Regions from separate parts of the Homo sapiens genome. Here all the other regions are linked to region 2. The links come from fine-mapping of genetic effects on gene expression. A gene starts in region 2. Each other region holds a variant in brackets. All regions are shown on one strand. Distances are between the middles of the regions. Region 1 has its middle 51 kb from the start of RPF2. Region 2 holds the start of RPF2 (ribosome production factor 2 homolog). Region 3 overlaps RPF2 (ribosome production factor 2 homolog).

Evidence for each region. PIP is the estimated chance that this variant, and not a neighbour inherited with it, causes the effect.
Region 1: its variant is the best candidate, but not a certain one, in a credible set for the expression of RPF2 in whole blood (INTERVAL, PIP 0.63).
Region 3: its variant is the best candidate, but not a certain one, in a credible set for the expression of RPF2 in skeletal muscle (GTEx, PIP 0.57).

The regions. Positions count from the first base shown.
Region 1 is chr6:111,030,532-111,034,757 of GRCh38, forward strand. No RefSeq gene overlaps it. Among named protein-coding and RNA genes, the nearest start is that of RPF2, 51 kb to the left of the region's middle. The variant A/G (reference allele first, on the strand shown) is at 1,908.
Region 2 is chr6:110,980,387-110,984,630 of GRCh38, forward strand. RPF2 (ribosome production factor 2 homolog) reads left to right here and starts at 1,652. Exons shown (of 10, transcript NM_032194.3): 1 at 1,652-1,743. The coding sequence starts at 1,721.
Region 3 is chr6:111,023,024-111,027,246 of GRCh38, forward strand. It overlaps RPF2 (ribosome production factor 2 homolog), which reads left to right. Exons shown (of 10, transcript NM_032194.3): 9 at 1,160-1,304; 10 at 2,380-4,223. The coding sequence ends at 2,559. Among named protein-coding and RNA genes, the nearest start is that of RPF2, 43 kb to the left of the region's middle. The variant G/A (reference allele first, on the strand shown) is at 2,582.

The DNA of each region.
Region 1 (4,226 bases), 50 kb after region 2:
GGCTCAGCCTTTCGGAGGCCGCTCGGTTTATGGCACTGGGAGAGCGTGAGAATTCTTTACTGTCCCCATGAGGCCCCATTTCATCCATCTGGCTCCCCAGTCAAAGCTAGTGAATGCCACAAATATGTTTTGAATTTTACCCCCAGCACCTTCCTCCATTAAGGGTGACCTTGGGGAAAGGTTAGACAGAATCTTGAAAAATCAATCAAAGCTCAAGTGGCATGAGAGCTCAAAAGCAGCATCACCATACGGGCAGGAGAGTATGTGGGAGTGGCAGACAGGGCAGTGTTGTGGGAAGGAGTGTGGCATTAAATGAAACCGACACAACCCTCGCCTGCTACTCTGAGAGCTCAGCTGAGATTTAAAAGGACAATTAAAAGATACAGTGCATAAAACCATGGGCAACACCAATTAGTAATATGGTTCTCTAAGAAAAGTGAAAATGTTTGCAGACTCAAGAAATGCAAAGGGCAATCAATGTGGCTTTGTTTTGTGGTAGTAGTAGTAGCAGTATGACAAAGAATTTTAAAAGGGGACTTGATAAGGCAACTGGTATAATACTGGCTGATGAAATTCCCATGTTATCTCCATTCTTAGAAAATGAGAGGAGTAGCCATCATGATTGAGAAATAGGGCTCCCGAAAGTAATTCTATCCTAACCTCAAGGTGGGTGAAATATGGCATGCAAAGCACCTGGCCGCTTGAAATAACTGAGTCTCCATTCCAAACATGCACATTCAGTTAATCTTGAAGGAACTATGGGGACGTAGAATGAGGCAGAGAACTGGTGACAGATACCTTCTAGTTTTGACTCTGGCAAAATTATAAGAAGAATCATGTAGGTGCCTCATGAGCTCTTACTTAGAATTGGAAATAGTCATCACTAGGAGCCAGCCTGGGTTCCCTGAGAGTTAAGAGTGTTAACCCATTTCCTTTTTTGAAACAGATACTTTCCCGGTAGAGCGTTGAAGTCAAAATTGTAGAGACGAATCTCTAAATTTGTTTTACTTGGGAGAAAGAATTGTAACCATAATAAATTTGTTGCCTGAGGCACACAGCAAGTCAATACACTGAGACACCAGGTTGCAGCAGAGAAAGAAGAAGAATCATAAAAATTTGAACCAGGAGGTCGGGCATGGTCGCTCACACCTATAATCCCAGCACTTTGGGAGGCCAAGGCGCACAGATCGCTTAAGCTCAGGAGTTCGAGAACAGCCTGACCAACATGGCAAAATCCCATCTCTACTAAAAATACAAAAATAAACCGGGCACAGTAGTACACGCTATTTATTGCAGCTACTCAGGAGGCTGAGGCAGGAGAACCGCTCGAACTCAGGAGGTGAAAGTTGCAGTGAGCTGAGATCACGCCACTGCACTCCAGCCTGGGCGACAGAGTGAGACCCTGTCTCAAGAGAAAAAGAAAAGAAAAGAAAAATTTGAATGAGGAGATGGGAAGAAACCTCAGATACAATTCTAAGGAATTTGAGGTTAGGATTTTTTAGGGTTTTAGAGATTGTTAATTGATGAAAGAGTGCAAAGTGAAGTCATAGGACAGGGAGATGAAGAAACTATTCTCATACTGATCCCCTTCCTCTGGTGGGATCTTCAAGCTGGTTGGCATCAGCTGTTTTGTTGGAATTCGGGGTCTGAAAAACATCTGTTTGTTTTTGTTTTTTTGAGATAGGGACTTGCTCTGTCACCCAGTGTGATTATAGCTCACTGCAGCCTCGAACTCTTTGGGCTCCAGCAGTCCTCCAAACTCAGCCTCCCAAATAGGTAGAACTACAGGCGCGCACTACCAGGGCCAGCTAATTTTTTAATATTTTTGTAGGAAGATACGGGGTCTTGCTATGTTCCCCAAGCTGGTTGAACTCTGCCTCAAGCAGTCCTCCCATCTCGGCCTCCCA[A/G]AGTGCTGGGATTTCAGGCTCTCGCCACCATACCTGGCCCTGAAAAACATTTTAAGTGATCCTTAAACAAAAGTGTTATGATCTAATGTTCAGAGACCCTGTAGGAACAATGGGGATGCAAGTCAATTCTTAGTCTTATGACCCTGATGTCAGAAATCCTGTCCATCATACAGTGGGGATGCAGATGGTCAGTATCTAGTGCTATGTGATTTAGCAACAAGGAAGTGGGCCAAAGGGCAGCTTGATTAATGATAAATTATAACTACATTTCTGGCCAGAACCTAACATGCAATTCTTGTCGACCCTGTGAGGGTGGTTTCAGAATTTATAAGTTCAGACATACATGCAGACTGGGTGGTCTTCGGAATGTCTGAAGAACAAAGAAAAGGCCAGAGGTTTTATTAAAAAGGAGAAATGTTATGTATTGCTCTTTGAGAAAGTTCGTTGGCACTGTGGGTTTGGGGAGCTGGGAGCTCTGATCGGTGAGCAACAGCAGAGGGCAAAATTAGTCCTAGAATTGTAGCAAGTTATCTCAGAAGCTATAGATAAAACTGGTTTCAGCTTACAACAAGCAGCTTCAGCAGCCAGGCTTGCAAAGAAAGTCTATTCTTGGAGCAATGCTTTGGTACCCTGAATGTTTTTCCTCCTAGCTTCTTGACTCTGTTTTAGTTGGATCTGACAAGAATGACCCAATTCTTATGGTTCAACTTTCACAGGACAATAACCAATCACTCCACATTTATCAAGCATTATTATGTTTCAGGCATTGGGAATAACACCTGACACTGTATATGTTTACAATTTAGAAAGCATTTTCTTTCTTTCCTTTTTGTTTTTCTTTTTCTTTTTTCTTTTTTTTTTTTTTGAGACAAGTCTTGCTCTGTCACCCCAGGCTGGAGTGCAGTGGCACGGATCTTGGCTCACTGCAACCTCCGCCTCCCAGGTTCAAGTGATTCTCCTGCCTCAGCCTTCTGAGTGGCTGGGATTACAGGCGCCCACCACCATGCCTGGCTAATTTTTGTATTTTTAGTAGAGATGGGTTTTTGCTATGTTGGCCAGGCTGGTCTGGAACTCCTGACCTCAGTTGATCTGCCCGACTCGGTCTCACAAAGTGCTGGGATTACAGGGGTGAGCCACCACACCAGGCCAAGCATTTTCTTTCAAATACAAGGAATATTTTTCTGATTTAAAAAAAAAAAACGAACTTTTTTTCTGATAATCAAAGGGAAAGTTGCAAAGATGAAAATAAAAGTCATCTGTAATCTCAGGTAATACCAGGTAATTAACATTTTGCTGTATTTCTTACCACTGAAAAAAATGCATAGTTTTAAGCTGGGTGTGGTGGTGAGCATGTAGTCCCAGTTAAGTGCCCAAAGGGTTCACTTTACCGGCTGCCTAGACAGAGTCGATTTACCAAGACAGGGGAATTGCAATGGACAAAGAGTAATTCACGCAGAGCCGGCTATGTGGGAAACCAGAGTTTTATTATTACCCAAATCAGTCTCCCTGAGCATTTGGGGATCAGAGTTTTCAAAGATAATTTTGCGGGTAGGGGCTTGGGAAGTGGGGAGTGCTGATTGGTCAGGTTGGAGATGGACTCACAGGGGGCGGAAGTGAATTTTTCTTGCTCTCTTCTGTTCCTGGGTGGGATGGCAGAACTGGTTGAGCCAGATTGCCGTCTGGGTGGTGTCAGCTGATCCATCGAGTGCAGGGTCTGCACAATAGCTCTGATCGTAGGTTTCACAATGGTGATATTATCCCCAGGAGCAATTTGGGAAGGTTCAGACTCTTGGAGCCAGAGGCTGCATGACCCCTAAACTGTAATTTCTAGCCTTGTAGCTAATTTGTTAGTCCTGCGAAGGCAGACTGGTCCCCAGGCAAGAAGGGGGTCGTTTCAGGAAAGAGCTATTACCAATTTTGTTTCTAGAGTCAAACCATGAACTGAATTCCTTCCCAAAGTTGGTTCAGCCTATGCCCAGGGATGAACAAGGACAGCTTAAAGGTTAGAAGCAAGATGGAGTTGTTTAGGTCTGATTTCTTTCACTGTCATAATTTCCTCAGTTATAATTTTTGCAAAGGGGATTTCGCCAGCTACTCAGGAGACTGAAGCAGGAGAGTTCCTTAAGCCCAGGTGGCCTTAGTATGCTATAATCATGCCTGTGAATAGCCACTGTACTCCAGCCTGAGTAACATAGCAAGACCTTGTCTCTAAAAAAATAAAAATAGGACCAGGCACGGTGGCTCACACGTATAATTTCAGGAGTATTGCTTGTGGCCAGAAGTTCAAGACTAGCCTGGGCAACATATCAAGATCCTGTC
Region 2 (4,244 bases):
TAGAATCACTTGAACCCAGGAGATGGAGGTTGCAGTAACCTGAGATTGCATCACTGCACTCCAGCCTGTGTGACAGAGTGAGACTCTGTCTCAGAAACAAAACAAAGCAAAGCAAAACAAAACAAAAAAACACAAAGCAGCATAATCCATAATAGCCAAAAAATAGGAACCATTCAAATGTACATAAGCTGCCGGGTACAGTAGCTCACGCCTGTATTCCTAGCACTTTGAGAGGCCAAGGCGGGTGGATTACCTGAGCTCAGAAGTTCAAGACCAGCCTGGCCAACATGGTGAAACCCTGTCTCTACTAAAAAATACAAAAGTTAGCAAGGTGTGGTGGTGCGTGCATGTAATCCCAGCTACTTGGGAGGCTGAGGCAGAACTGCTTGAACCCGGGAGGTGGACGGCGCAGTAAGCCAAGATCGCACCACTGCACTTCAGCCCTGGCGACAGAGCAAGACTATGTCTAAAATAAAAAAAGTACCTAGGTTGATAAATGGATAAACAAAATGTGGTATATCCATACAAAGGAATATTATTCAGTCCTAACAAAATGGAAGTACTGATCCACGCTACATGTATGAACCTCAAAAAGATAGTGAAAGAAGTCAAACACAAAAGGCCATACGTTGCACGAAACCATTTATATATGTTCAGAATAGGCAAATCCATTGAACATAAAGTAGATTATTGGTTGCCAAGGGCTGGCAGGAGGGGGAAGTGGGGCATGGACTGCTACTGGGTGTGTGTGTCAGGGGGGTTCTTTTTGAGGTGATTAAATATTCTGGAATTAGTGGTGATATTTGCACATCTTTGTGAATACACCAAAAATCACTGAATTGTACACTGTAAAGGGGTACATTTTATGGTATGTGAAGTATATGGTAACTTAAAAACTGGGGAAAAATCACGAACAGCAGTACATTTTCTGCGCATCTTTTATGTACTAGGCAACTGTGGTAGTCATAAATTCTGTCACACAGATCGCATAGTTGTCAATAGTGCCCCTTTCACATCAATGTTTTTAGTGCTTATGTGAGTACCTACCGTGCAATCAATCAACCTTTCTAGCATCCTGGGATTCCTTGAAGAATAAAATCTGGTTTCTGAATACCTGACTCCAGGTATGCACACTAGCGCGTACATCAAACTGCGAGGGTCTATGTTATTTTATTTTATTTTTATTTTATTTTTGAGACGAAGTCTCGCTCTGTCACCCAGGCTGGAGTGCAGTGGCGCGATCTCCGCTCACTGCAACCTCCGCCTCCCGGGTTCAAGCAGTTCTCCCTGCCTCAGCCTCCCGAGTAGCTGGGGTTAGAGGCGCCCGCCACCACGCCCGGCTAATTTTTGTATTTTTAGTAGAGACGGGGTTTCGCCATGTTGGCCAGGCTGGTCTCGAACTCCTGTTATCAGGTAATCCGCCCGCCTGGGCCTCCCAAAATCCTGGGATTACAGGCGTGAGCCACCACGCCCGGCCAGTGTTACTTAAAAGTATTACCTCGCACCTGTAACTCCAGGAAAGAGCCGGGGCAAAAATCCGTAACCAAGACAACAGGGCGCGATTCCAATCAAGATGGCCGCCAGCGCCTCTAGACGCCCTCTACGAGGCCGTCCCCGGAAGTGGCGTTACGCGCAGCTTCCGGTTCCGCCTGTTCCGGCGCACGTAATCGCCGAGGGCACGTGCATGCCCCCTGGTTAAGAGTTGCAGGTAGCGGTAGCGATGGACACTCTGGATCGAGTAGTGTAAGTGCGCTGGGTCTCAGCCCCGGGGAGCGTTGGGGTGAAAGGGTCCCGTGATGAGGGTGGTACTGTCTCGGCCTCTCACTCTTCCTGGTTACCCCTCTAATTACCTGGGTGGGGGCCGATCGATCACCAGCCCGGGTCCTCCTCAGCGCGAGCTGCTTGCCAGGAGACAGTGGGGAAGCTCTCAAGTGGGAGCCGTGGGATGGGAGGGATGTGGGATTGAAGCGTTGGCCGCTTTTATCCTAGCCAGTTGAAAAACGTCTGACTTCCGAAGTATGAGACAGATGGTATAGTGGGGTTAGGAGCACAGCCCTCGGAATCCGACAGATCTGAGTGACAGTCTGGCGCGTCCACTTAAAGCTTTGTGACTTTGGGTCATTAAATATCTCTAAATCTTAGCTTATTCTGTAAAATAGCGCTCACCATAGTCATACTTCATAGAGCTGTGAGGGTTAGTTTCGAGAATGTATGTAGAGCCTTTGCTGCAGCACGTAGAAATGTTCATTAGTTTTTTCTTTTCCTTCCAACTTTGTACACTCCTCTGAGTTATCCTTGAATGATACCTGTTTTAAATTTGTTCAAGAATATTTGGGCTAAACAGCCCTGCTGTTACTTGCTGTGATTTTCTTGCTATTTACCTAAGTTAACATGTATCCAAAACGACAGTTTTAGTCATTCAGAGATTTTGCACACCTGCTATGCCTCTAGCTGTTTGGACTACAAAGAGTAGTTTACTAGGTATTGGGACTAGTTCACACGTTAATTGGGAGCAGGCAGCTAATAAAACATGTTAATTGCTATTTGCATTTGTTGCTGTTTAATGAGATACAAAAGATAGAATAATTTGTATCTTTATCAACCAGTAAATGATCAGAAGCTTTATATGTGACATTATATCTGGAGGAGTATTTTAAAAATCTACATGGGAAACTTAAGTGTATGTATGGTCTCTTTTTCTTCCCAAAGTGTCCATGGGACTGGACGAGGGAGGGTCATAATTATTTGGGAGGAAGAATTCTTTCAGTAGATGGCAGAGAACTGTCTGAAAAGCAAGGTGCTCATTGTAGAGGAAGCAGAGGTGAAGCCCCTCTTTTGAACAGAAGTGTGTAAAAACATGCCACTCCTACTGTCACATCATAAAGTCAGAATAATGAATTTATTTTCCCTTCATATTTTACAGGGTAATTGGTCTAGACGAATTTTTAAATCTAGCTTTAAAAAATTTGTTTTTTTTTGAGACAGGGTATCACTCTGTCACCCAGGCTGGAGTGCAGTAGCCCCATCACAGCTCACTGCAGCCTCGACCTCCCTGGGATCAAGCAGTCCTCCTACCTCAGCCTGCTGAGTAGCTGGGACTATAGGCGCACACCACCACAGCTAATTTTTGTATTTTTTGTAGAGACAGGGTTTTGCATTGTTGCCCAGGCTGGTCTCGAACTTCTGGGCTCAGTGATCCATCCACCTTGGCCTCCTAGAGTGTTTTTATTACAGGCTGTGGGCCACCTCCCAGCCCTAGCTCATTTTAAAAATTGGCCTGTTTACTTGCTGTGTGATCTTGGGCACATTACCTGTCTGTTCAATTGCCTCATCTGTAAAGTGAAGATAAGAATTGTAACTCGCGCGTGGAGGCTCACGCCTGTAATCCCAGCACTTTGGGAGGCTGAGGCGGGGGGGTGGGTCACGAGGTCAGGAGATCGAGACCATCCTGGCTAACACGGTGAAACCTCGTCTGTACTAAAAATACAAAAAATTAGCCGGGCGTCGTGGCGGGCGCCTGTAGTCCCAGCTACTCGGGAGGCTGAGGCAGGAGAATGGCGTGAACCTGGGAGACGGAGCTTGCAGTGAGCCGAGATCGCACCACTGCACTCCAGCCTGGGCGACAGAGCGAGACTCTGTCTCAAAAAAATAAATAAATAAATAAATAAGAATTGTAACTCTCAGGATTGTGGTGAAGATTAAGCCTTAATAGAGTGACTCCATGTAAACATCAGCCTTATTATTCCCCATTGTTGGCAATAATACTGGCATTCTCAGCAATGATGTTGGAGTGCAACAGTGTATACTTCCTGGCAGGCATTGTGGTCTTAAACCTAAAAGAAAAATAAGCAGTCGTTAGTCTTATGTTTAGTAAATGTCCACAGGTTGATCAGCAGTTGATGCTCAATTCTTTGTATTAGGGTACAGGATACAGTTTGACTACTTAAAGTTTGAAGAAAAAAGAAGAGTAAGAAAGAGTAAGAGAAAAAAAACAGCAACAGTATTTACTTGAGCCTTTTATTTTTTACTTAAAAAAAAGATTGGAAAGAGCAGTAATAAAAGAATGGTGGGAATACAAAAATGAAAGCTTTTTTTTAAAAGCTATCAAAACACTTATTTAACAATAATAAGGAAATATCTTTTACTAATATCTACCAAAAAAGTGAGATTTTGGCCGGCCCTTGTGGCTCGCACCTGTAATCCCAGCACTTTGGGAGCCGAGGTGAGCGGATCACCTGAGGTCA
Region 3 (4,223 bases), 43 kb after region 2:
GAGTAGCTGGGACTACAGGCATGTGCCACCACGCCTGGCTAATTTTTTGTGTCTTTAGTAGAGATGAGGTTTCACCATGTTGGCCAGCTGGTCTGGAGCTCCTGACCTCAGGTGATCTGCCTGCCTTAGCCTCCCAAAGTGCTGGGACTACAGGCGTGAGCCACCACGCCTGGCTGCTCCACCATCACTTTATCCTGCCTGTATTCCCCAGTTCTCCTCCACCAGTGTTTCCAGATCCAGAGCTGTTTAGACATAGGGTATTCAGAAAGTTGTGGTTTTGTTATTTTAAGATTTTAAAGTTCACTTCAATGTAAGGAAGTTAGTAAATGTCTGTGCTATGAGGAAAAGTTGATTCTGAATGGGTTGGTTTAACTCCTACAGTCTTAGATAAGAACTTGTTAATCGTATAAACATACTGTTTCAAAGAAAAAGCCAATTATAATTACTTTTATACATACATAAATCTATGAGTAAGATGAAGAAGTCAAATCAAAGGATTTTATTTCATTTCTGAGAATAATTTTGTATCTCACTTGCTGTTTCTCAATAATATTGTATAATTTTATTTCTGATTTTTAAAAATAAGCAAACTGCCCTTGACCTCAAAGAGAAAAAAAAAATTTTTAATTTGATATTTGTGTGACCCTTTAGCTCAAAAAGGGATAAAAGACTTATAAAGAAAAGCCGGGCATGGTGGCTCATGCCTGTAATCCCAGTACTTTGGGAGGCCGAGGCAGGAGGATCATGAGGTCAGGAGAGCGAGACCATCCTGGCTAACACGGTGAAACCCCATCTCTACTAAAAATACAAAAAAATTAGCCAGGTGTGGTGGCGGGTGCCTGTAGTCCCAGCTACTCGGGAGGCTGAGGCAGGAGAATGGCGTGAACCTGGGAGGTGGAGCTTACAGTGAGCCAAGATCGCGCCACTGCACTCCAGCCTGGGGACAGAGCGAGACTCCGTCTCAAAAAAAAAAAAATTTATAAAAGAAGATGTGAACCAAAGGATATACTTGGCTTGAATAGTATTAAGTATTTAAGTAAGTCTTTCTAAACATTTTATATCATTTAATGGAATTGTAAATCCCCTGAACAAAAAATATTTGGTGGAGAGGACTTTTATGAAAGTCAAAGCAACATTTCTTTTTACCTATTTCCTAAAGGTTGCTGTTGAAGAAATCTGGTTGCAGAACACCACGGATTGAATTGGAAGAGATGGGACCCTCATTGGATCTGGTTCTGAGGAGGACACACCTGGCATCGGATGACCTTTATAAATTATCTATGAAAATGCCAAAAGCTCTCAAGGTATATAACTTAGAGCTTGGTACCACATTTATTTGTATTTTCTACTTTAATCCTTTTTCTTTCCAAAAAGAATTTGTGGCATATTATATTAAAAGACAAGGACAGGCCAGGCGCGGTGGCTCACGCCTGTAATCCCAGCACTTTGGGAGGCCGAAGTGGGTGGATCACAAGGTCAGGAGATCGAGACCATCCTGGCTAATACAGTGAAACCCCGTCTCTATGAAAAATACAAAAAATTAGCTGGGCGTGGTAGCGGGCGCCTGTAGTCCCAGCTACTTGGGAGGCTGAGGCAGGAGAATGGCGTGAACCGGGGAGGTGGAGCTTGCAGTGAGCAGAGATCACGCCATTGCACTCCAGCGTGGGTGACAGAGTGAGCCAAAAAAAAAAAAAAAAGACAAGGACATATATAAAGAGATCAATACAATAGATTAAACTAGGACTCACAGAGCCAGGAAAAGGAGAGAGAACCAAATAAGCCAACAATAAGGGATAATAAAAAAAGAGTTGCAAAACCCAGACATGAGGTTTGGCTAAGTGCCTTCTGATAGTCAAGACTGTTGTTTTCAGCAAAAGAAAGAGAGTTGTTTGGTACACTGTAAAGGCTAAGGATTTAGAGTACAGGGTATATAAACCATATGTGCATAAAATGTGTTTTGACTTTTTAAGTAGTTTTAAAAGACAAGAAGAAATGTAATCTCTAAAATGCCAATAGAAATTGAAACAATAGTCACAACTTCTTAAGCTAAACACAGGCTATTTTCTTGATGTGTGACAGTGGTTAGTGTAGTTTATAGTTTTGTTTTTCAAAGTGTGGCCTGACAGTTTACCTGGGAATTGTGCAGAATATCAGGCCCTACCCTAGACATACTGAATTAGGATCTGTATTTTAGCAAGATCCCAAGTGATTTGTATGCACACTTAAGTTTGAGAAGAAAAGTGTATAGGGCTATATACTGTGTCACTGAAGGGGCAGGCACTAATGGAAATTGCTACTAAGATAGTTGTTACAGACTAGATTTTTACTGGCTCATTATAGTAGAAGGCCATTAAATATATACATATTCTTTTATCGTAGCCAAAGAAGAAGAAAAATATTTCCCATGATACTTTTGGTACAACTTATGGAAGGATTCATATGCAGAAGCAAGACCTAAGCAAACTACAAACCAGGAAAATGAAGGGGTTGAAGAAGCGACCTGCAGAAAGGATAACAGAAGACCACGAGAAAAAGTCAAAAAGAATTAAAAAAAATTGATGGAACTTAGCCAGCCACTACT[G/A]TTTCATTGTGTTCTACTTAAGAGAATTATCAAGCGTCAATCCATTCAGAGTTTCTTATAAGATCTTATTATATATTTTTATAACATGATAATTTTACGATATATTATTATGAACAGTAATATACTAGTATTAAGTGTAAAGTAAGCCTTTTATTTGAGACATTACACCCTGGTGTGCCATTTTCTCTTGTGATATCCCCTGCCCTCCACAAATTCTTCTTTCTCATTGGGTGGATGGATGGGTGAGGAGGGATCTCCATAACCATTGGGATTTTTTTGAATTTCTGGCCTTAGCTAAAGAAAGCCACAGAAAGCCGGACCCGCAGGAGCTGTGTAAACAATCTCAGTATGAATTACCTGGAAAGTTAACCTCCTCTCCCAACATGGATCTACATTCTGATTTTTATTTTCTACTTTTATTTTGCCTGAAATCCTACTCGTTGACATTTGAGATTTTAAGCTTTGTGGCTGAAAATATATAGATCTCTGAGAGGGATGTCTGCTATCTGATTATTGATAAATTACACTACTGTTGATTGTTTTAAGAGACTCTACTACTAAGTAGAGCCCACCCCGCTTCTCTGAGACGAAACCTGTGTTTTTTGGTTGGTTTGTTTTTAAGAGATGGGGTCTTGTTCTGTCACCTAGGGTGGAGTGCAGTGGCACAATCACAGCTCACTGCAGCCCTGAACTCCTGGGCTCAAGTAATCCTCCTGCCTGAGCCTCTTACGTAGCTGGGATTACAGGCATGAGCCACTGAGCCCTACTTTTTTTTTTTAAAGCAATGAGGTCTTGCTGTGTTGCCCAGGCTGGACTCAAATTCCTGGGCTCAAGTGATCCTCCCACTTCACCTTCCTGAGCAGCCGGAACTACAGATGTTGGTCCACTGCACCTGGCAGAAAAGAAGTTTTGATAGGGGCAGAAATGAAAAAGGAGAAAACAGGTGAGTTTTAAGGTGCAGGGCACTTTAGGGTACTGGGTAGCCCTAGGTAGCTAAAGGTTGCATGAAGGCCCTGGGCGTTTGCAGATGGTGTAGAAGCCAGCCAAAGCCTAACTACTTGTTTTGAAAGTTTCTTGAAGACAGGCCTTGTGCCTAGGAAAACAGAAGCTTTCTTCTTCCTTCTACTAGTATTGCATACTTGTTTTTCTGGAATAGGGTGTTAAGTTCCTTGATTCAGTCCTTGACAAGGAATCTCCTTTATACAAGTGCCAGTAATGTTGTAAAGGTACAGACATACGCAAATCATAATTTGTTACATGAAGTACCAGTGCTTTCTTTTTTGTTGTTTTTTGAGACAGAGTCTCGCTCTGTCGCTCAGGCTGGAGTGCAGTGGCGCGATTTCAGTTCACTGCAACCTCCACCTCCCAGGTTCAAGCATTCTTCTGCCTCAGCCTCCCGAGTAGCTGGGATTACAGGCACCCACCACCACGCCTGGCTGATTTTTTGTAGAGACAGGGTTTCACTTCAATTCCATGTTAGAGAGCTCCGTGCCTGTGTATACATGCCTTTATGTAAGCTTGCTCAGCTACAGATCAACAATGCTGGCACTAAGCAAAAGTTCGAGCCTCAGCTTTACCTTCTACCCTTTCCCTTCTCTTTTGAATCCATTCCTTAGCTTTCCCTAGTCCTCTCCGGATAGCT